Homo sapiens: one gene and its partners. The protein of the gene in region 3 purifies or fractionates together with the protein of the main gene of each other region. This does not show direct contact. Each region holds a gene or a part of one and is shown on either strand. Other genes may lie near its edges.

Evidence for each region.
Region 1: the proteins of KLK8 (region 3) and SLC16A10 purify together in Homo sapiens (affinity purification with mass spectrometry; one large-scale study listed by BioGRID and IntAct). This does not show direct contact.
Region 2: the proteins of KLK8 (region 3) and SLC25A15 purify together in Homo sapiens (co-immunoprecipitation; 2 studies listed by BioGRID and IntAct, with this or other methods). This does not show direct contact.
Region 4: the proteins of KLK8 (region 3) and LMF1 purify together in Homo sapiens (affinity purification with mass spectrometry, with the first as the bait; one large-scale study listed by BioGRID). This does not show direct contact.
Region 5: the proteins of KLK8 (region 3) and RAB39A purify together in Homo sapiens (affinity purification with mass spectrometry, with the first as the bait; one large-scale study listed by BioGRID). This does not show direct contact.
Region 6: the proteins of KLK8 (region 3) and TAMM41 purify together in Homo sapiens (affinity purification with mass spectrometry, with the first as the bait; one large-scale study listed by BioGRID). This does not show direct contact.
Region 7: the proteins of KLK8 (region 3) and TIMM17A purify together in Homo sapiens (affinity purification with mass spectrometry; one large-scale study listed by BioGRID and IntAct). This does not show direct contact.

Annotation. Positions count from the first base shown.
Region 1 is NC_000006.12:111,174,503-111,178,002, forward strand, and holds part of SLC16A10 (monocarboxylate transporter 10), read left to right. Parts: intron 1-2,709; coding exon 2,710-3,163; intron 3,164-3,500. UniProt on the Homo sapiens protein: Sodium- and proton-independent thyroid hormones and aromatic acids transporter.
Region 2 is NC_000013.11:40,792,611-40,796,110, forward strand, and holds part of SLC25A15 (mitochondrial ornithine transporter 1), read left to right. Parts: intron 1-547; 5' UTR 548-616; coding exon 617-671; intron 672-3,500.
Region 3 is NC_000019.10:50,998,805-51,003,055, reverse strand, and holds the start of KLK8 (kallikrein-8 isoform 1 preproprotein), read left to right. Parts: upstream 1-1,451; 5' UTR 1,452-1,524; intron 1,525-1,880; 5' UTR 1,881-1,888; coding exon 1,889-1,958; intron 1,959-2,337; coding exon of another isoform or gene 2,338-2,472; coding exon 2,473-2,632; intron 2,633-2,797; coding exon 2,798-3,060; intron 3,061-4,251. UniProt on the Homo sapiens protein: Serine protease which is capable of degrading a number of proteins such as casein, fibrinogen, kininogen, fibronectin and collagen type IV. Also cleaves L1CAM in response to increased neural activity.
Region 4 is NC_000016.10:957,485-960,984, reverse strand, and holds part of LMF1 (lipase maturation factor 1), read left to right. Parts: intron 1-3,500. UniProt on the Homo sapiens protein: Involved in the maturation of specific proteins in the endoplasmic reticulum. Required for maturation and transport of active lipoprotein lipase (LPL) through the secretory pathway. Each LMF1 molecule chaperones 50 or more molecules of LPL.
Region 5 is NC_000011.10:107,959,448-107,961,714, forward strand, and holds part of RAB39A (ras-related protein Rab-39A), read left to right. Parts: intron 1-2,267. UniProt on the Homo sapiens protein: The small GTPases Rab are key regulators of intracellular membrane trafficking, from the formation of transport vesicles to their fusion with membranes.
Region 6 is NC_000003.12:11,792,414-11,794,885, reverse strand, and holds part of TAMM41 (phosphatidate cytidylyltransferase, mitochondrial isoform a precursor), read left to right. Parts: intron 1-2,472. UniProt on the Homo sapiens protein: Catalyzes the conversion of phosphatidic acid (PA) to CDP-diacylglycerol (CDP-DAG), an essential intermediate in the synthesis of phosphatidylglycerol, cardiolipin and phosphatidylinositol.
Region 7 is NC_000001.11:201,962,003-201,965,502, forward strand, and holds part of TIMM17A (mitochondrial import inner membrane translocase subunit Tim17-A), read left to right. Parts: intron 1-1,613; coding exon 1,614-1,742; intron 1,743-3,430; coding exon 3,431-3,500. UniProt on the Homo sapiens protein: Essential component of the TIM23 complex, a complex that mediates the translocation of transit peptide-containing proteins across the mitochondrial inner membrane.

The DNA of each region.
Region 1 (3,500 bases), on a different chromosome or scaffold from region 3:
TCTTTAAAGTACCTTTATGGGTTTTTTCTTCTAAAATTGTTTTTTAAAGAAAAAAGTTTTATTTGGAATAAGATTCTTGTAGGTAATTCCATGAGATGATTTATTTTAGCAGCAACATAATATTTACATTATTATTAATGTAATTAATGTTATTAATACCTCATCAGATAGCTTCTTTGATCTGGAAGCTTCCAGGTACCTATTGTCAGTACTTGTGGCTCTACCACTTGCCGAATGTATTACAACTCTAGTTGTGGTAGAGAGGGGACTGAGAGGTAGACAACTTATGTAATCTACTACCTAGTTTGTTAACAAAACACACATACAAAGCAATGTTTTTCAAATTTTTCTGACCACTGAGCAATAAAAATTATGACATATATTTTGATGTGACCCAGTTCTGTCTCTCTTTCTCTACCCTCTAAGTGAAACAAAATTTATTGAAACCAAAATTCCCTTACTACATGTAATATTCTCATATATTCTATTAAATTTCGTTATTTAGCTTGCTGATCAAAGGCTACTGAAACTTGAGAGCAAGATACAGGAGCAAGGGGAAATGTGGTATAGATTCTGAGTGTCAAGTGGCAGGTCCATTTTTTCCTCTAGCTCCAGTTCTGCCTTCTGAGGAAAACCTTCTCCAACAACTTAGGTCAATCACACCCATGTCCCTTCTCTGAATCCTTTTTGCACATATGATTGGTATCCGACAGCCTTACTCATTTACATTGCACTTATTTGGCTGCCAAACGTCACAAACTGGAACCATGTGTTACTGAAGGGAAAACCTGGAAGTGAAAAGGGTTCAGCAGTAGTGCAAATACCATCATAAAGCTCATATACTTCACTCTGCAGGAGGGAGAAGCTCTGTGGTTTTCCAACTGAGAGCATTACAGTACAGTGATACCACTGTACAGGAACTGATGTTCCTGATGATTCTGCTGTGAACAGTATTTTTAATATACACTTTGAAGAAGGCAGAGAGAAATGTATAATAGACTTAAATTTTTTTCTTTAAAATTGTTAAATAAAAACAAATAAGCACTTTAAGTAAGTTACAATTATCTGGAAAACTACTTAGGTGGAAAAACTGATACAGAATGAATGAAGTATTAATTTCTGTTTTGTTCTGTGTTATTATTATTTGGGATAGATGTCTTGTTTCTTTAAGCAGACTATGAATATCTTGAAGGCAGAACCACATTTTTTTTTTTTTTGAGACAGGGTCTCACTATTACTCAGGCCAGAATGCAGTGGTGTTATCATAGCTGACTGCAGCCTGGATTCCTGGGTTCAAGCCGTCCTCCTGCCCCAGCTTCCTGAGTAGCTAGGACTACAGGCATGTGCCATCACACCCAGCTAATTTCAGCTATTTTTTTTTTTTTTAAATAGAGATGGGGTTTTGCTATGTTGCCAGACTGGTCTCAAGCCATCCTCCTGCCTTGGCCACCCAAAGTGTTGGGATTACAGGTGTGAGCCACCACGTCTGGCCAAGGACCAGATTTTTAATATTCTTTTCCACAATGTATCTGGTACACAGTAGTTGCTTAATATGTTGGCTAAACAAAGAGTGGAGATTCAGTAAAGGGTGATCAGAGTGAGGTGAGATTAATTTGGGAAAGCCTAGAAGTGATTCTTGAGCCTGATTTGAAGGTGGTGCTAGCTGTGGATTAGTAGAGGGAGAAGGGCATCTCAGAGAGAGGATTGCCAACATGCCTTAATTTTATCAGATTCTAGAGTTCCTTATGATTACCTCAGCATGTTGCTAGACTAGCATTATTATCCAAAATTTTAATTATTAACCAACTTTAATCTTACTTTCTAACAAATTGTTTGCTTTTACTACTGATAGCCTTTTCAAAAAACTTTAACTAGTTTTATTCCTTACCATAATTGTTTCAAAGAACATAATGATATGATCCTTTATCTTCCTAAGAAATGTGCAATTATTTGGTTAAACTGTAAGATTATTTAATCCATTATTCTTTTGACACATGCATGGCCTTACAGCTTACAAACTGGGATCACTAAAGGAATACACTTAATTTAAGTCTTTCTGTAGTCAGAATATGATTTCTTGTTGTCTTGCACAATACTGAGAACAGTGCAGTACAGGGCGAAGGTTGGTCTACAGCCCTTAGGCCAGCAAAAACAGGCACAACTGCACCTCTGTGCAAATGTTCCTGACATAACCTTGGGGAAAAAATATAAAATGCGGCCTTTTCTTTTACTACCTTGTTTGGTAAGTACCTGGAAAAACTCCATGAAATAATTAGATTTCATAGTTAATTCTAACTTTTTTAAAAAATGTTTCATTGAGACTAGGTTTTTGGTTTGTTAATTGAATCACTGTTGATTTTACCCTTCCTGGCACCAACCTTTATTTCTGAGCTGTGGAGAGCACAGTTCTCACTCAGTGCTGTGTGCGTCACCTGAAATCCACAGAAAGAGGTGGCTGAACAAAATCACTGATGACCTTAATGGTTATTTTTCACATATTCAGATTAAATTAAAATACGTTTAGTGCTACATGCTTGACTTACTGAGTTTTTCCCTCTATTTTGGTTAATTTTTTTTTTTTTTGGTTAACTTTTACTTGTAGAAAATATGTTGATGAACAAAAACCCACTTATACTATAAGATTTTATTCTACCAAGCACACAGTAACAATATTGAAAGCTGCTTTCCATCTTTTTCATCTTTATACAGTTCCATCGAGCCTCTGTACCTTACCTATGGAATCATATTTGCCTGCGGCTGCTCCTTTGCATACCAGCCTTCATTGGTCATTTTGGGACACTATTTCAAGAAGCGCCTTGGACTGGTGAATGGCATTGTCACTGCTGGCAGCAGTGTCTTCACAATCCTGCTGCCTTTGCTCTTAAGGGTTCTGATTGACAGCGTGGGCCTCTTTTACACATTGAGGGTGCTCTGCATCTTCATGTTTGTTCTCTTTCTGGCTGGCTTTACTTACCGACCTCTTGCTACCAGTACCAAAGATAAAGAGAGTGGAGGTAGCGGATCCTCCCTCTTTTCCAGGAAAAAGTTCAGTCCTCCAAAAAAAATTTTCAATTTTGCCATCTTCAAGGTGACAGCTTATGCAGTGTGGGCAGTTGGAATACCACTTGCACTTTTTGGATACTTTGTGCCTTATGTTCACTTGGTGAGTATGCTCCTTCACTGATCATGAATATTACTATTTAATAAAGAAAAACTTCTTTGAAGAGAAAGTTAGGTCGAGTTAAAGTTGGCCTCAAACATTATCCTGGTTGTAATTTTGGTATTCTTGAAATGAAAGGTCTCTCAAGACAATGTCAGCACATCCATTAGACCACTAAACAGAGAGAGTATGTTTCATAGTGTGCTTTGGTATTTTAAAAACCCTGCAAACCCAGCCAGACACCATGGTGCCTGTCTATGGTCCCAGCTACTAAGCTGAGGCAGGAGGATCACTTGAGCCCAGGAGTTCGAATCCAGCCTAGACAACATAGAGAGACTCT
Region 2 (3,500 bases), on a different chromosome or scaffold from region 3:
TCACCTTGTACAGATGAGGACTCCCAGCTGTAGAGGCTGAAGGAGCCACACTGCAGGTAGAGCAGGCATTCACCAAGGCGTGTGTGATCCCAGGGTGCAGCTCCCACCCTTGGCTGCCTGGGTGCTCTTTTCCAGACCTACTGTCTTGTGAGATCCCCTTAGGCACCCAGCACAGGCTGCTGTCTGAATTTAGAACTGAGCCTGTTCAATTGATGGCTCAACATAGGCCTCTAAAAAAACAAGTCTGATGCGGTTTGGTACACCTGTGGTTGGCTTACTTATTTGGTGTTCGTTTTTTCAGTTTTCAGAAAGGTCAGTTGAAGTGCTGCTGGTGGCTGTAGCATTGATACACAGGGGAGGTTTTTGATCTGTGAGCTTTCTAGGAGGCAGTTGCTAAGCTGCACTGATACCTTGAGCCCCTTTCCTTTGGAACAGTGTGGACCCCAGGTCATGGCTCCCAGAAGTTTAGGTTCTGTAATTTGGCTGCAGGCCTAGAGAACAGGATGCTGCAGACTTGGACTAATGGTGAACTCTTGCCTCCCCCCAGGGATATGTGGTGCCTGTCATAAGCTCCAGAGAGCTGCCTTCCACAAGACCAGCAGAAGAGTGGGCAAACATGAAATCCAATCCTGCTATCCAGGCTGCCATTGACCTCACAGCGGGGGCTGCAGGTACAGTCATGTGCCTCATCACCATGTTTCTGTCGTTGATGGATGGTGTATCTGATGGTGGTCCCATGAGATTATACTACCATATTTTTACTGTACCTTTTCTGTGTTTAGATACATTTAGATACATAAATACCACTGTGTTATAGTTGCCTGCAACATCCAGTACAGTAACATCCTGTACAGGTGTATAGCCTAGGAGCAATAGGCCATACCGAATAGCCTAGGTGTGGAGTAGGCTACGCCATCTAGGGTCAGGTGTGTATGCTCTATGATAGCACAATGACGAAATTGTGTAATGACATGTATTTCAGAACATGTCCCAGTCATTAAGCAATGCCTAACTATAATCCCAGAGAAAACCCAGTTCTCTCTATTCCTCAACTACTCTCTAAATGAGATCAAATGAAAGTGGTATGAAAATACTACCTTTCTCCCTCCAGTACTTTACCTTTGGGATTAATCCATTTGATGGAAGTTTAGTATTGTTCAGAGAGTAGCAGAAGCTAGAGGAGTGTCCGTTATTGTTAACACCTTGTCAGTCAGGGTGATGGGTGGAAGGTGCCCAGTACAGCTGGAAAACAGCTCAGAGGTGAAGCCACGTGTCCATTGTCACCTGGCTGGGATATGCAGGTGATGTGGTTCTTCACTTCAAGCCTGGCAGTCTTCAGAGCCCTTGTTGTGCAAAAATAACACCATAGCATCTCCTGGGAAACACCACTTACTGTCCCTGCTAGTGTTGGGAAAGAAAGGAGGACACTCTTAGAAATGTCTTTAAAAGGCTGGGCGCAGTGGCTCACGCCTGTAATCCCAGCACTTTAGGAGGCCAAGGCGGGCAGATCACCTGAGGTGAGGAGTTCAAGACCAGCTTGACCAACATGGAGAAACCCCGTCTCTTCTAAAAATACAAAATTATCCAGGCGTGGTGGTGCATGCCTGTAATCTTAGCTACTTGGGAGGCTGAGGCAGGAGAATCGCTTGAACCCCGGAGGCGGAGGTTGTGGTGAGCCAAGATCGCGCCATTGCACTCCAGCCTGGGCAACAACAGTGAAACTCTGTCTCAAAAAAAAAAAAAAAAGACATGTCTCTGAAAATGAGACTGATAATGGACTGTGTCTTAGAGCCGTGAAAGTTGTAGGATTTGCTGGGAATGTCAGCTAACCTGAGCCTAGGGGCCTGAGCCCAAGAGCCTGAGGCTCCCCCAGCACAGGGAGGTGCTACCTGTGATAAGGGGTAGTGCTGGCACCATGCAGGCTACTCCTTAGAAAGATCAGCTTGAACATGCAGGAAGAGCAGGACCCTCAGGCTGGGAAACAGGGCGGAATGGGAAGTGCATGGTGGTAATTTGGTTCTCCAGAGTCCAGAAGTAGGAGGAGTGGCTGGAATACTGATTGCCCAAAGGAAAACCCTGGACTACCCTGGGCTCCCGCAGGATTCTCATAGTAGTTGCAGCTCCCTGGAGTGGGGAGGCCAGCGGGGGTGTTGCCCAGTGCTGTCCTTATCCAGCACACCCCCCACCCCCACCACCAGCAGATGAGTATGGTCATGAATATGGTCACCTCATCAGTCATTTGCTCAATTGTGAAAAAGAAATTGTTCAGAGAAGAGCAAAGTGTTTTTCCATGAGCCAAAGGTCAGCCAGGGTATGCTAATGAGGAAGACTGGAGAGAGCGCGTCACCGTCACCGAGCCTAATGAGGAGCACTGGGCAAGGGCACTTCTCCCAGGGCAGAACCCACAAGGAGCGTCCCAGCCCCAGATGCCCAGGGAACGGAAGGCCAGTGGGGGTCTGCCCAGTAGTCTCTTGCCCACTGCGTGCCTTTAGGCTACAGCCTCCCAAGCCCCTTTCCCCCTCCCCTCCCCCATGCCACACTGGGGAGGACGCTGACCCTGAGAATGGTGCAAACATCTGCCTGCCCCAGGCCGCCTCTCACCAGCGAGTGAATGCTCTTGGGCTCAGTTCTGTTTCTGCAGAAGGAGGGTGTTTAGCCACATATAGTCTCAGCTTTTGACATTTTATGTCTTTCAGTCAATCTGTCAAAGATCTAGAACCTATGGTGATAGAATTTAAAAGTTTACCTTTTCCTATTTATGTGCATACAGGTATTTGGGTACCACATTTATAATTTACAAGTTAGTTTGAAAGATAGAAATTGCAACAGTATGGTTGGGAGCCTGGTATGTAAGGCATTTGCTGGTGGGCATGTTTTGAACATGTATTGATCCCTTATGTATACTGACACACTGTCCCCATCACTGTTGGACAGGTATTTCCCCCTGTGCTGGCGACACAGGGACGCCCCTCACCGAGGTAGAGATGCTGTGGGTAGTCTTAACTTCTGAGGACAACGAAGCCCATTCCTGGGGGGACAGGATAGGGAGGGGGAGCGAGACATGGTCTATAGGTTGGGGGCTGGGCAGAGGAGGTGCCTAGCAGTGACACAGAAACCTCTGTTCTGCTGTGAGGCCTATGGAATGCAAATGGAACCCACTTTTGAGGATCTTGGAGTCTTGGAGTGCTGGAGCTAGAGAGACCTTTAGACATTGTTGGCTCCAATGCTCGTTGGATATGTAGAAAAAGGCCCACAGAGGAGCAGTAGATTTGTTCAAGGTTACACAGCAAGATGGTGTGAAGACAGGGCAGGACTGTGATCCCTGGGTCCCTTGTCTGGTGTCGTTGCTGTCTCTGCTTTAGTACTCCGTAATGCATCTGCAGCACACTGGAGGGGAGGGTTAGTTTGGAGCCTTTGGGCCCTGCCTTTCTGGATGTGGAACTTGCTGGGCTTTGGGAATTTTCTGCCAGCCATTGATAGGAGCAGAGGACCTGTTGTGT
Region 3 (4,251 bases):
TAGGGGGTTCTCGTAGGGTCCCAGCCTCAATGGTTCCCGCCCTGGACCTCCAGCTGCCCTGACTCCCCTCTGGACACTAAGACTCCGCCCCTGAGGCTCCGCCCCCTCACGAGGTCAAGCAAGACACAGTCGCGCCCCCTCGGAACGGAGCAGGGACACGCCCTTCAGAGCCCGTCTCTATGACGTCACCGACAGCCATCACCTCCTTCTTGGAACAGCACAGCCTGTGGCTCCGCCCCAAGGAACCACTTACACAAAATAGCTCCGCCCCTCGGAACTTTGCCCAGTGGGACTTCCCCTCGGGACTCCACCCCTTGTGGCCCCGCCTCCTTCACCAGAGATCTCGCCCCTCGTGATGTCAGGGGCGCAGTAGCTCCGCCCACGTGGAGCTCGGGCGGTGTAGAGCTCAGCCCCTTGTGGCCCCGTCCTGGGCGTGTGCTGGGTTTGAATCCTGGCGGAGACCTGGGGGGAAATTGAGGGAGGGTCTGGATACCTTTAGAGCCAATGCAACGGATGATTTTTCAGTAAACGCGGGAAACCTCACCTTCTTTCTGCCTGAGCTGTGAGATGAGTGGAGAGCAAACGGGTGGGCGGTGAAGGGCAGATGAGGGAACCGGTACCGCCTTGCAACTCCCCCTTAAACCCCTAGTAAGTTTTGCCTAAAGTCTCTGTCCATCAGCCCTATTGCAGCAAGACTCCTGGGTTCTGCTTGGGTTGGTCTTGCCGCCTCCAGGGGAAGGGGAAACCAGGTCACAGTGCCTCCCAAACCTGCCCTCCCAGATCCCGGACCTCTCAGGGGACAGCGGGCGGGGCCTGATCCACCCTCTGGTTTCTGACCCTAGAAGACCTGCCTTTCTTCGGTTCCCGGTTACTGGCAGCAGCCCCCTCCTCCCACAAAAGATCAGGTTCCAAGCTTCTCCTTTTAAAAGTACTTAGAATTCAGCCCCCAGCTCTCTCCTCCCTCACACCCAGGAATCCAGGCCCCTAGCCCCTCCTCCCTCAGACCCAGGAGTCCTGGCCCCTAGCAGCCCCCTCCTCCCTCAGACCCAGGAGTCTGGGCCCCCAGCCCCTCCTCGGTCAGACCTAAATCCCAGGTCCCAGTCCCTCCTCCCTTAGATTTAGGAGTCCAGGCCCCCAGCCTCTCCTCCCTCAGACCCAGGAATCCAGGCCCCCAGCCTCCTCCCCTCTCAGAACTAAAATCTTGGCCCCCAGCCCTTTATGTTTCAGATCGTAGAGTCTCAGCACCGAGTCCCTCCTCTCCCTAGCCTCAGGAGTCTGAGATTCCAGCCCCTCCTCCCTCAAGATTTCACGTTCAATCCCCTCCGCCCCTTCTCACTCACACCCAGTGTTCCAGTTCCCAGAAGCTCCCCAGGCTCTAGTGCAGGAGGAGAAGGAGGAGGAGCAGGAGGTGGAGATTCCCAGTTAAAAGGCTCCAGAATCGTGTACCAGGCAGAGAACTGAAGTACTGGGGCCTCCTCCACTGGGTCCGAATCAGTAGGTGACCCCGCCCCTGGATTCTGGAAGGTGAGGTGCAGAGGTACTCAGATACAGACATCAGGCCCCGGACCCTCCTTCTCCAGATTCCAGGACCCCAGCCTCAGATGCCCTTCTCTGTCGAGATCCAGCAGTCTGGACCCCGGCTTCCTCCTCTCCCTAATTTAGGAGTCCCAGCTCCCAGCTCCCTGTCCCCTCAGACCCAGACATCGAGGACTCCCCCCTCCCTTGGAATGTAGGAATCCAGTCCCCCAGCCTCCTCCTTCCTCCAGAGAAGCCCAGAACAGCCCCAGATACTCTCGGCTGCCTCCCCAGTGCCCAAATCCAGAACTGGGAGCTCAGGCTCCTCCTTCCTGTTTACCGGCCCCGCCCTCTCCATTTCCCAGACCTCACCATGGGACGCCCCCGACCTCGTGCGGCCAAGACGTGGATGTTCCTGCTCTTGCTGGGGGGAGCCTGGGCAGGTGAGGAGGGTTGCGGAGGCCTCCGGAGGGGAGGGATCTGAAGGCAGCAGTGGCGCTGGGGAGTCTGTGGGAATGCCGCGGGGGTTATGTGGGTGCGTGTGCACGGATGTGAAGAGTGCGATACGGTGCAGGAGCCTCTGTGGGCTTTCCTCAGGGTGGACAGAGGCAAGAAACAGGTAGCAGCAGGTAGGAGTAGGTTCCGTGATGCTGTAAATTGTCTGAATAGCTACAGCCTTTGGGGGCTGCTTGCTTGGGGGCATAGATTCACCTGGGAGTACTCGGGGCCTGTAGACTCATGTGGAAGCATGTGGGGGCATTCTTGGGTGTGTGACTCTTGTATGATGACACATGGACTGAAATGAGTGTCCCCGTGTGGCAGCGTGTGGAAGCCTGGACCTCCTCACTAAGTTGTATGCGGAGAACTTGCCGTGTGTCCATTTGAACCCACAGTGGCCTTCCCAGCCCTCGCACTGCCCCAGAGGGTGGCGATCCAACCCTCTCCCTCCTGCTGCAGGACACTCCAGGGCACAGGAGGACAAGGTGCTGGGGGGTCATGAGTGCCAACCCCATTCGCAGCCTTGGCAGGCGGCCTTGTTCCAGGGCCAGCAACTACTCTGTGGCGGTGTCCTTGTAGGTGGCAACTGGGTCCTTACAGCTGCCCACTGTAAAAAACCGTGAGTGGATGATGGGGGCAGAGGTCAGCTGGGGCTTAAGGAAAGAGGGGGCTGGGGTTTCGACTCAGGAAGGAGAGAGCTGAGGACTGGACTCCTGGGTCTGAAGGAGGAGGGGGCTGGGGGCAATACCCCTGCCTGGGTCCCAAACTATCCCCACCATTACAGGAAATACACAGTACGCCTGGGAGACCACAGCCTACAGAATAAAGATGGCCCAGAGCAAGAAATACCTGTGGTTCAGTCCATCCCACACCCCTGCTACAACAGCAGCGATGTGGAGGACCACAACCATGATCTGATGCTTCTTCAACTGCGTGACCAGGCATCCCTGGGGTCCAAAGTGAAGCCCATCAGCCTGGCAGATCATTGCACCCAGCCTGGCCAGAAGTGCACCGTCTCAGGCTGGGGCACTGTCACCAGTCCCCGAGGTAGTGGGCTTGTCCACTAATGGGAGGGAGAGGAGGAGCTGGTTGGCCCAGTGGAACCCAAGCTATTGGCAAAGCTTGGTCCCCCAGAGGGAGACAAAGAAGGGAAAGTGATCATGATGTTGAGATTCACAAGCAGGAGTCATATGAGAAGCCTCGAAGATCTGACTACTAACAAGAGTGGTGAGAGAAAGAACCAACTAGCAGATTGTTAAGCAGGGCCAGAAAAGCCCATCCTGTATGGCGGAGAGCACTACCCTATGGGACCTTTGGTTGTATAGGATTTTATATAATCTTAACACACTTGGGATATTTGGACTTCTCAGAGGCCCAGGAAAACAGGCTCCTAAGCACCTTCTCCCCCACCTCCCTCCTTTTTTTTTTTTTTTTTTTTTTTTTTTTTTTTTTTTTTTTTGCAGGGGGACACAGTTTCACTCAATCGCCCAGGCTGGAGTGCAGTGGCACAATCTCAGCTCACTACAATCTCTGCCTCCTGGGTTTAAGCGATTCTCGAACCTCAGCCTCCCGAGTAGCTGGGATTACAGGCACCCGCCACCACGCGAGCTAATTTTTGTATTTGTTGTAGAGACAGGGTTTCGCCATGTTGACCAGGCTGGTCTCGAACTCCTGACCTCAAGTGATCTGCCCGCCTCGGCCTACCAAAGTGCTGGGATTACAAGCATGAGCCACCGCCCCTGGCCTTTTTCTCCTTCTTGAACCCAGGAAACCTGGGCCCTGGTCACCTCTTCCCTCAGACCCGGGAGTCTAGGCCCTTCTTCTCCCAGGACCCAGCAGTCCTAGCTCCCTCTTGACTCTGGACCCCAAAATCTGGACCTCCAATGAAGCTGTCCCTTTGGGACTCCAGAATCCAGAGAGCCCCTCGCCTTCCTTCACAGTGAAAACATTGGGACTCACCTAAGAGAGTCAAGGAGCTTCTCCAGGAAGTGGCAAAGTCAGCATTCAGGTCCCTGCCTGCCTCACTCCTGCTCTGAATGCTTTGGATGAGACAGTTTGCGGCTGTGGAAACACACGTGCTCGCAAATCAAGTAGATCAGTTCAAACTATGGCTCTGCCCTTTCTCCCTGGGCAAATTCCTTTCCATCTCTGAGCCTCACTTTCCTTATCTGCAAAATGGGAATCATTAACCAATAGATTTTTTAGCTACGTGAGGGTTCAGGTTACATCAGTTTTCTT
Region 4 (3,500 bases), on a different chromosome or scaffold from region 3:
CTGTCACCGTGAGTCTGTGTCTGGGTCGTGATCCCGTGCTGTCACCGTGAGTCTGTGTCTGGGTCGTGATCCCGTGCTGTCACCGTGAGTCTGTCTGGGTCGTGATCCCGTGTTGTCACCGTGAGTCTGTGTCTGGGTCGTGATCCCGTGCTGTCACCGTGAGTCTGTGTCTGGGTCGTGATCCCGTGCTGTCACCGTGAGTCTGTGTCTGGGTCGTGATCCCGTGCTGTCACCGTGAGTCTGTCTGGGTCGTGATCCCGTGCTGTCACCGTGAGTCTGTGTCTGGGTCGTGATCCCGTGCTGTCACCGTGAGTCTGTGTCTGGGTCGTGATCCCGTGCTGTCACCGTGAGTCTGTCTGGGTCGTGATCCCGTGTTGTCACCGTGAGTCTGTGTCTGGGTCGTGATCCCGTGCTGTCACCGTGAGTCTGTGTCTGGGTCGTGATCCCGTGTTGTCACCATGAGATGGTGTCTGGGTTGTGATCCAGTGTTGTCACCGTGAGTCTGTGTCTGGGTCGTGATCCCGTGCTGTCACCGTGAGTCTGTGTCTGGGTCGTGATCCCGTGCTGTCACCGTGAGTCTGTGTCTGGGTCGTGATCCCGTGCTGTCACCGTGAGTCTGTGTCTGGGTCGTGATCCCGTGCTGTCACCGTGAGTCTGTGTCTGGGTTGTGATCCAGTGTTGTCACTGTGAGTCTTTGTCTGGGTTATGATCCAGTGCTGTCACTGTGAGTTTGCTGCTCAGCTCCTCCAGCTTTGACCACTGGTGGGTTTCCCCTCCTTCCCCGCAGGGATGCTTCCGGCCCAGCTTCTGTTTCTCTGCCCCAGCCCTAGAATGAGTTGTTTCCAAGGAGCCCTGGTTCTTTTTAGGGGAGCATAGAAACTTCAGTCTGGGCACTGGGAGGGCCGTTGCTCCCGGGGTGTCACAGCTGCTGGCCCTCTTCCTGGGTAGAGCTAGGCTCTGTGTGTCACTATCTCATTTCACACATTTGATTGCTTCTCTGTCGTATCCACCTATCCATCTGTAAGTATACGAAGGTCAACCTGGTCCATGCCGATGACTCTGACTCTCACCTGGCACACGGTGTATTCCAGCCTTCCGTCCTGGAACATGGTGTATTCCATCCTCCCGTCCTGGCACACGGTGTATTCCAGTCTTCCCTGCTGGCCCATCTGAATCCTCCCTCTCTGCTAGTGGGAACCTGGCTCCCCTGACTCCTCTAGCATCTGCTCAGCCCTGGTGCACGTGCGAGAATTGTCCACCCAGGCCCGGGGGGGAAAGCCCTGGAGTGCAGCGTTTGTGTACAGCTCCTTCTGGCCTTGCGGTCTCCACTCAGAACATTTTCCGGAGTTGCTTAGGCGGCTCCTGCCCTCTGGCCAGTGTGTTTCTGTTTCACATCCGTGCGTGTGGAGCCTGTATTCTATCTGCATCCCCCAACCTCCTGGTCGGGTCTTCCCCCAATAGTTTGTGCACATTGAAGTTCATCTCGTGTAATGCTCAGTGCTGTGGGCTTTGCCTCCATCACCCCAGCTCCAGCCCCAAGTCCCCCGTGCATGGGAGTGACCACTTCCCCTGCACCAGCCCCTGGCACGCCCGGGTCTGTCTCCCGTCCCTCTGGTTTTGCCTTTTCCAGTGTGACATACGAATGAAATCACGCAGTATATAGCCTGTTGGGTCTAGATTCTTTTGCTTAGCAAAATGCACTTAAGATTCATCCATGTTATTGCCTGAACCAACAGCTGCATTCTTATCTCTGATTATTTTTCTGTTGCACAAATGCACCTCCGGTTATTTATCCACTTCCACCGTGAAGGATGTCTTCCTTGTTTCTAGTTTTTAGTGGCTATGAACAGAGCTGCTATGAGCATCTGCATGAGGCTTCTGTGCGAGCACACTTTCAGGTTGAAGGCCTGAGAGGTGCAGTAGCTGATTTGTAAGGTAACCCTTCATTATCTGGGTCAGATGCCACCGTCTGCCATCCACAGTGGTAGGCCACAGCATCCCCGGCACAGCGAGGGCACTCCTGCTGTCCCGAACCTTCTGCAGCATTGGGCACTGTCCATGTTCGTGTTTTTTTTGTTTTGTTTTTTTGGTTTTTTTTTTGAGACAGTCTTACTCTGTCGCCGAGGCTGGAGTGCAGTGGCGCTGTGTCGGCTCACTCCAACCTCCGCCTCCTGGGTTCAAGCAATTCTCCTGCCTCAGCCTTGCGAGTAGCTGGGATTCCAGGTGTGCACCACTATGCCCAGCTAATTTTTGTATTTTTAGTAGAGACGGGGTTTCACCACATTGGCCAGGCTGGTCTTGAACTCCTGACCTCAGGTGATCTGCCCACCTCGGCCTCCCAAAGCGCTGGGATTACAGGCATGAGCCACCGCGCCCGGCCTGGGCACTGTCCGTTTTCAAGCACTTCGGCCATGTGACGTGTGTGTGGTGACAGCACGCTGTGGTTTTCATGGGCATTTCCGCAGTGATGAAGGATGTTGAGCATCTTTTCACGTGTTATTTGCCATCCGTACACCTTCCTATGTCTGTTCAGACCTTGTGGCCTGGTTTTTTCTTCCCACCTTTAACATTGGGTTGTTTGTTTTCTAATTATTGAATTTTAAAAGTTCTTTAAATATTCTAGATACAAATCCTTTATCAGATGTGTGATTTGCCAGTATTTTCTTCCAATCTGCGGCTTGTGTTTTCATTCTGTTAAAAGTAGCTTTTGCAGATCAAAAGTTTTTCAGTTTGATAAAGTTCAATTTACAGTTTCTAATTTCATAGATTATGCTTTTGGTGTTGTATCTAAAAACTTGTTGCCAAACCCAAGTCACATAGATTTTCTTCTATATTTCCATCTGGAAGTCTTATGCTTTTATGTTTTACATTTAGGTCTATGATCCTTTTTGGTTAATTTTTGTGTAAGGTGTGAAGTGTGTTCAGGTCCATCTTTTTGCATGTGGACATCCATCTGTTCCAACATGATTGTTACAGAGACTCTTCTTTGTTTTTTTATTTATTTTGTAGAGACTGAGTCTCACTATGTTGCCCAGGCTGCTCTGGAATTCCTGGGCTCAAGCGATCCTCCTGCCTCAGCCTCCCAAAGTGCTGGGATGACAGGTGTGAGCCACCACGCCCGGCCCAAGGCTGCTCTTTGTCTGTGTAGTTGCCTTTGAACCTTTGTCAGAATTTGTTCACTCTGTGTGTCGGGTCGGGGGCAGGGGGGCTGTGTCTGGGCCGTCTCTTCCATTCCATTGAGTTCTGCGGCTCTTCCTTAATCAATACTGCGCTGTCTTGATGTGGTCTTGATTAGCTTTTTAGTAAGTCTTGAAATTGGGTAACATGAGTCCTCCACCTCTGTTCTTTTCCAGATGATTTTGGCTTTTTAATCCCTTTGCTCTCCCATGTATATTCTAGAATCAGCTTGTCAGCCTCGGCGGAAGCACTGACTGGGTGTTTGGTTCAGATTGTGCCGAATTTATGGATCAAATTGACACCTTAATGATTTTGATTTTTCC
Region 5 (2,267 bases), on a different chromosome or scaffold from region 3:
ATTCATAGCCTGCCAAAGATGGTGGGAGATTTTTCTTATTGTCAATTTCTTTTCTTTTTTTATTTTTAGAATCTAAGCATCGGGTTGGTGAAAAACTCAATTTCTCTATAATACTATAGTCCTTGACAAAAGTTTTTCAAAAATAGCCACTTGGGAATCTCTCTACTAGGAATTCTGAGGAGAAACAGGGAAGCAGGAGAAATAGAAAGAAAGAGGAGGTAAAATGGTTTGCACTCCCACAACAAAGCTATTTATGGCATCAGGGCACTGAACTGAGCTGTGATTTCAGCAATGAGGACAAGTAGGAAAGTATGACGGTAACAAATAACCCACTGGCCATTCACAAAGATCTTGGTGCCTCAGGCAAGTAGTCAGATGAGTTTGCTAAAAGACCATTGACAAACTGGAAACTGAGACTCATGGGATCTCTGGTTTATACAGCATTTAGCACTTTTCCTCTCCAATAAGGTTAATTAATCCAATATTGGCCGCGGTGGCTCACGCCTGTAATCCTAGCACTTTGGGAGGCCGAGGCAGGTGGATCACAAGGTCAAGAGATCGAGAGCATCTTGGCCAACATGGTGAAACCCTGTCTCCACTAAAAATACAAAAATTAGCTGGGGGTGGTGGCATGCGCCTATAGTCCCAGCTACTTGGGAGGCCAAGGCAGGAGAATTGCTTGAACCCAGGAGGCGGAGGTTGCAGTGAGCCAAGATCACGCCACTGCACTCCAGCCTGGGCGACAGAGCAAGACTCCATCTCAAAAAAAAAAAAAAAAATCCAATATAACAAACATTGTATGACATCTGTCATTTGCCATGCAGTATGATTGACATAACAGCAAATCCAGTCAGCATATCAAGAAAATTAAGATAATCATAATGGCAGAATGCCAGTGGTTCAGAGGAACTATAAGAAGAGTACCTAAGAAAGAGGTGAGTGGCAGGGAAGGCTGCTCAGATGGTATGATTATTGAGCTCACTATTGAAGCAGACATAGGAGTTTCTTAGACAGAAAAGGGGTAGAAGATATTCCAAATAGATAAAACAACATGTGGAGGGGCAAGAAACGTAAAACAGTATAGCCTTGACACCTTGCCTCATGATTCAGCCAGGAAACAGATGGCACAATTGTAGGTTAGCCGAAAAGAGTTTAATGAAGTGACTATTTCCAGAGATACAATCAGCATCAAGGATACTAATAAAGGATGGTGAAGCATTCAGAGCTAGCAACAGTGGGAAGCCATTGACCACCTGGTTGGAAGAGGAGAGGACAGAGAATGGTATTACCAGAACGTGGTGACAGCTGTAGCCATGGGAGAGGGTCCACCCTACAGAAACCCTGACTAGAAGCAGAGGAATACCACCACTGCTAAGCCACAGCCCAGCAGAAGCAAACAGAGGGATAAATACTCTGACTTCTCTTTCCTTCTGTCTCCAGCCAGCGCCTCCCATTGGCTGAACCCCCCTGCAAGCTGGAGGGCAAGGGAGTTTGGGAAAGCTTTTTGTGAAGGACAGCTTCCTCAGGCCTAGAGAAGGATGGAGACTAGATCTGGAGAGACATACAGAGAATCGTTAGCACACCTCAGATTCATATCCCAGGTCCATACAGTCTCCTGTTTCTTGAATAGGTGCAACACAAGACTGTACCTGTAACTAATACTGTGACAAGTCTGCTGTCTTCGTGAGTTTGGGCTGTTATAACAAATTACCACAGAATGGGGATTTAAACAACAGAAATTTAGTTCTCACAATTTTGGAAGCTGGAAGTGGATGATCAGGGAGATCCTGGTGCCAGCATGGTCAGGTTCCAGTGAGGGCCCTCTTCTGGGTTGCAGACAGCCACCTTGTATCCTCACATGGTAGAAAGAGGACTAGAGTGCTCTCTGGGGTATCTTTTTTTAAGGGCACTGGTCCCATTCACGAGGGTTCCACCCTCATGACCTAAATTACATCCCAAAGGCCCCTCCTCCTAATCCTAATACCACCACATTAGGGTTAGCATTTCAACATAAGAATTTGGGAGGGACACAGACATTCGATCCATACTACAGCCCTTGTTTCTTTTTCCTAAACTGATAGAGAGAAGAGTTCATTAAATTTTATGACAAGTGAGATTCTTAAGATCTAGTTTGTTGTACAACCTGTGCCCTTTACTCAGTCTTTCAATATGCTTATTTTTAACCACAATGATGTAATAATCTATCAGATTTTTGAAAGCAAAAACAAATAATCAGACAGTATGAGATGACATAGCATGTAAGTGCT
Region 6 (2,472 bases), on a different chromosome or scaffold from region 3:
CTGGAAGGATGTTTTGGGGATACTAATTTTATCAAAGGTCTGAAACGTAAGATTATGGAAAGATAGAGATCTTTCACAGCCTAGCCATATTTCTACCTCACATTGTTTCCTGGAGAGTTTGTCTGTCAGTAGCCCATCTGTTTTAAGATCACACGGGGAGTTCATAGTCTTACGTGTGTATTAACTTCGCTGTAGGTCATGTGAAACAAGCTGGAAATCAGAAGAGAAACCTAAGGAGCCATATAGTGACATAGCTTTCTGCATGCTTCTAAAACAAAATCCTGACTTTAGATTCTAACCAGAATTCATAATGACTAGCTTTAGGTAAATAAGGATCTCTCTACAGGGAATGCATCTAAAGAGATGTTGCATTTTTATCCACTGGGGAAGGAGTGAGCAGAATTCCTAAATCATCATCCTTTCCTGTAGAAAGAGTAAGCTTAATGTAATCTGGGCACAGAGGCTCACACCTGTAATCCTAGCACTTTGGGAGGCTAAGGTGGGAGGATGGCTTGAGGCCAAGGGTTCAAGACCAGCCTGGGCAACAAAGCAAGACCCCATCTCTACAAAAATAAAATAAAATTAGCCGGGCGTGGTGGCATGTACCTGTAGCCCCAGCTACTCAGGAAGATGAGGAGAGAGGATCTCTTGAGCCCAGAAGATCGAGGCTCCAGTGAGCTTTGATTATGCCACTGCACTCCAACCTGGGCGACAGAGTAAAAAAAAAAAAAAAAAAATTGAAGAAAGTAAGCTTAGTGTAGACCAAGTAGAAGTCTATGGATTGTGGACTCTGTGAGGGCAGAGACCATAGCTGTTATCTGTACCAGTATCCCTAGCAACTAGTTCAGTGTCTTGCTTATACAGGTGCTCAATAAATATTTGTTCTATGTGTGACCAAATAAATGAAAGATTCTAAATTTTCTGGTAGTAGGAAATATCTCCATATAGATAGAAAAGTGCAAAAATCATAAATCTGATGAATTTCCACAAAGGGAACACCTCATAGACCTAGTGCCCAGGTAAAGAAATACAGTCATTCCAGTCCCCAGTACCCCTCATGCCCGTCACAGGCATTGCTTCTCCGAGAGTAAGCTCCAGCCTGACTCCCAGTGCCACGGTTCTGTTTTACCCATTTTTTAACCATGTATAAGCATGTCCTCTTTTGTGCCTTTCCCTGTTCATTTATAACATAGGGAGATTCATCGTGTTGGGAGTAGCAGTGGTTCATTTCTGCCCAGTGCAGTATTCTGCTGTGTGAATATACCGCAATGTATCCATTCTACTATTGATGGATACTTGGGTTGTTCCCGCTTGGGACTATTAGAAGTAGTGCTGCTGTGAATATTTTTGTACCTGTCTTTTGGTGGGTGGGTGTATGCATTCCTGTCAGGTATGTACTGAGGGGTAGAATACCTGGATGATAAAGCATGTGACTGTTCAGCTTTAGTAGAAACTGCTAAACAATCGTCCACATTTATACTTGCACTAGCAGAGCTTCTGTTGCAGCACCTCCCTGAATGCCTGTTTAGGTCTTTTTCATTTTAGGCACTCTAGTGGGTGACTAGTGGTACCATATTGATCTTTTAATTTACATTTTCCTCATGACTGAGGAAGTTGAGCATTTTTCATTTGTTTATTTGGATATGCTCTTTTGTGAAGCGTCTATTCTAGTCTTCTGCTCATTTTCCTACTGAGTTGTCTCTTTTGCTTACTGAATTCTCTCTGTAGTCGGGGCACAACTCCATTGTTGGATACATGTGATGTCAAAATCCCCCACTCCGTGGCTTGTCATTTCACTCTCTTTTTTTTTTTTTTTTTTTTTTTTTGAGATGGGGCCTTGCTCTGTGGCCAGGCTGGAGTGCAGTGGCGTGATCTCGGCTCATTGCAACCTCCGCTTCCCGGGCTCAAGCGATTCCCCTGTCCCAGCCTCCTAAGTAGCTGGGACTACAGGCACATGCCACCACGCCTGGCTAATTTTTTGTATTTTTAGTAGAGACGGGGTTTCACCATGTTGGCCAGGTTGGTCTTGATCTCCTGACCTCATGGTCTGCCCGCCTCGGCCTCCCTAAGTGTTGGGATTATGGCTGTAAGCCATGTCATTTCACTCTCTTAATGGTGTCTTTTGGTGAAAAGAAGTTCATAATTTCATGTAGTCCAGTTTATCCATTTTGTTTTCTATATGTTTAGCAGTTTTTTGTGTCCTGTTTAGAAAATTTTTGCCTATTCCAAAATCATGAAATTTAAGTTCTCCACCTCTGTTGAAATTATAATATTAAGGCAGAAAAGACTCTTCATTCTGATCTGTTGGTTCTTAGCCTTTTGCAAGTCCAGGATCCCTGTGAAAATCTGACTAGAACTCTGGACGCCCTGCACAGAAGTGCACCTACGCACACACACAGTAGATTTTCCTGCAGTGTTAGGGAGTTCACAGACACTCAGACTTAATCTGTGGACCCCTTGTTAGAGAACCCC
Region 7 (3,500 bases), on a different chromosome or scaffold from region 3:
GGCTCTGGATCCTCACACCAGGCTACCCTTTATGGATCTCCTCCTCATCCTGCTTAGACTCAAATTCTCCATTCTCATTAGTAGCCAACACTTATTCTGGCAATGATTCTCAGGGGAAGGGTCTCCTGAGATTTTAGGCTCATGAGGAAATGGGAGGGTCTTGTCAGAAAATTTTAGTGAGGTAATTCTAATATACCTAGACGTCATAGCTCTCTCCCAGGGCATAGAATTACTGAGTTAGAAGAAATAACTGGTTTGTTTTTACATAGGATGTGATGTCTAATATTGTACTAAAAATGAGGATGCTTATGCTATACTCCACTGGTACTATCCACTGGATTTATTTATTTTTTTTATTTTTTGAGACGGAGTCTCGCTCTGTCGCCCAGGCTGGAGCACAGTGGTGCAAACTTGGCTCACTGCAAGCTCTGCCTCCTGGGTTCACACCATTCTCCTGCCTCGGCCTCCAGAGTAGCTGGGACTACAGGTGCCCGCCATCACACCTGGCTAATTTTTTTTGTATTTTTTAGTAGAGACGGGGGTTTCACCGTGTTGGCCAGGATGCCCTCGATCTTCTGACCTCATGATCCACCCGCCTCGGCCTCCCAAAATGCTGGGATTGTAGGCGTGAGCTACCGCACCTGGCTGTTTTTGTATTTAGATAGAGTTTAAGTGCAAAGTAATCTGCTGATTTAAGGTTGTTTTAAATTCATATCTGAGGAATAAAGGATGGACAGGCAATTTCCATCCCTTTGATGTTCCATAGTTCTAGCTATTTATATCATTCATTTGCCCCTTCAGCATGGATTGGCTTACACCTGTAATACGTTCCAGAATAGCTGGATTTCTTTTGTTTTCCCATCGGTGATTTTCATAGAGTAGATGCTCAATGACATATAATGCAGAAAGGCCAAAAATAGAGGTAAGTAAAGCTATGAAAGAAAAGAAGAACGAAAGAGGAAGCAGAGTAGTTTGATTTTGTTTATTGCTGCTTAAACCAGAGAGATATGTTATTCTGGAAGGGTGATTTGCTTGTTTTTACACATATGCAGCCTGACTGTTTTAGGCTTGGCTTCTTTTTTGTTTGTTTGAGATGGAGTGTCGCTCTTGTTGCCCAGGCTGGAGTGCAGTGGCACGATCTCGGCTCACTGCAACCTCCGCCTCCTGGGTTCAAGCGATTCTCCTGCCTCAGCCTCCCCAGTAGCTGGGATTACAGGTGCTCGCCACCACACCCGGCTAATTTTTACATTTTTAGTAGAGGCGGAGTTTCGCCATGTTAGCCAGGCTGGTCTTGAACTCCTGGCCTCAGGTGATCCACCCACTTCAGCCTCCCAAAGTGCTGGGATTACAGGTGTGAGCTATGGCACCCGGCTGGCTTATTTCTTATAGGCTTTGGGCCGTTGCTAATTTTCCAGCTGATATAATACAATCCAGCTTTATTCGAAAGATAAGTATTCTAACTCTTGTTCGGTGTTTATTCAAACTTGTGTTTGCATGTATTTGTTTGGACTATAAATTTTGAGACTATAGTGAGTATGTTTTTGACTATAATATTTTAAATGGAAGATGAAATTTAAATTAGTATTTGCTTGTTTCTTTTTACAATAAAATAGGTAGCTTTGCAGTTTGGGGAGGGCTGTTTTCCATGATTGACTGTAGTATGGTTCAAGTCAGAGGAAAGGAAGATCCCTGGAACTCCATCACAAGTGGTGCCTTAACGGGAGCCATACTGGCAGCAAGAAGTAAGTAGTCATTACAGACATACTAGTAGAAGCCACACTTTTAGGAAAACCTCATCTGCCTCAATTGAATGACATCTGTAATATATAAAACTGATTATTGACCAGGCACATTGGCTCATGACTATAATTCCATCACTTGGGAGGCTGAGGCAGGTAGATTGCACAAGTCCAGGAGCTTGAGATCAGATATAGGGAGACCTGGTCTCTACAAAAAAAAAAATTTAATTAGCTGGGTGTGTTGGTGCATGCCTATAGTCCCAGCTACTCATGAGGCCGAGGCAGGAGGATCACTTGAGCCACCGCACTCTCACCTGGGCAACAGAGTGAGACCCTGCTTCAAAAAAAATAATAATTATAAAACTGAGCATTGTTTAATTTGGCATAGCATAAATATACAGTATATGGTGATTTGAAAAAAAAGTAAGGGGATCTATTTATTTGGAATATTTGAGAATGAAAGAGCATGGAATTCTAACCCATATATTACAGTGGTTGAGAGCACTTCAGGTCCCAGTTCTGCCATTAATTAGCTGTATGACTGGTCAGTTTACCAAACTTTTTATGCTATAATTTCTTCACCAGTAATCTGGAGTTAATTAATAATTACACCTGCCATATAGAGTTGTTATGAATAAGGAACTTAGAACCATCTTCTGGATCCTCAGGACAGAGAATTCCTTTGAGCTTAGTGGTTTAGACCAAGGGATTTGCAAACTATTTCTGTAAAAGGCCAGATAGTGAATATTTTAGGCTTTGTGGGCTGTGTGGTCTTTGTCATAGCTACCTAAATCTGCTGTCATAGCATGAAAGCAGCCATGGATAATACATAAACGAAACAGTATGGCTGTGTTTCAGTAAAACTTTATTTATTTATTTATTTTATTTTATTTCTTTTTTTTTTTTTTTTTTTTTTTTTTTTTTTGAGACTGAGTCTCACTCTGTCGCCCGAGCTGGAATGCAGTGGCGCAATCTCGGCTCACTGCAAGCTCTGCCTCCCGGGTTCAAGCGATTCTCCTGCCTCAGCCTCCCGAGTAGCTGGGACTACAGGTGTGTGCCACCACGCCTGGCTAATTTTTTGTATTTTTAGTGGAGACGGGGTTTTACCATGTTAGCCAGGATGGTCTCGATCTCCTGACCTCGTAATCCACCCACCTCGGCCTCCCAAAGTGTTGGGATTACGGGCGTGAGCCACTGCGCCCGGCCCTATTTATTTATTTATTTTCTTGAGACGGAGTCTTACTCTGTCACCCAGGCTGGAGTGCAGTGGCACAATCTCGGCTCACTGCAACCTCTGCTTCCTGGGTTCAAGCAATTCTCCTGCCTCAGCCTCCTGAGAAGCTGGGACTACAGGTGCCCGCCACCACGTCAAGCTAATTTTTGTATTTTTAGTAGAGACGGGGTTTCCCCATGTTGGCCAGGCTGGTCTCGAACTCCTGACCTCATGATCTGCCTGCCTCAGCCTCCCAAAGTGCTGGGATTTATGGCCTTTCAGTAAAACTTTATTTACAAAAATAGGCAGTGGGTGGACTGTGGGTGGCTGTAGTTTACTGACTCTGGGTCTTAGGCAATAAGAAAGAGTTTGGGAGTTGGGGGAGCATGTCACCATATGGACAGTTCTCTTCTTTACTATCTCTTACAGTAAACTAGATTTCTGTAAAAAATAATCTCTTTGTTATTAATGTCTTCAGATGGACCAGTGGCCATGGTTGGGTCAGCCGCAATGGGTGGCATTCTCCTAGCTTTAATTGAAGGAGCTGG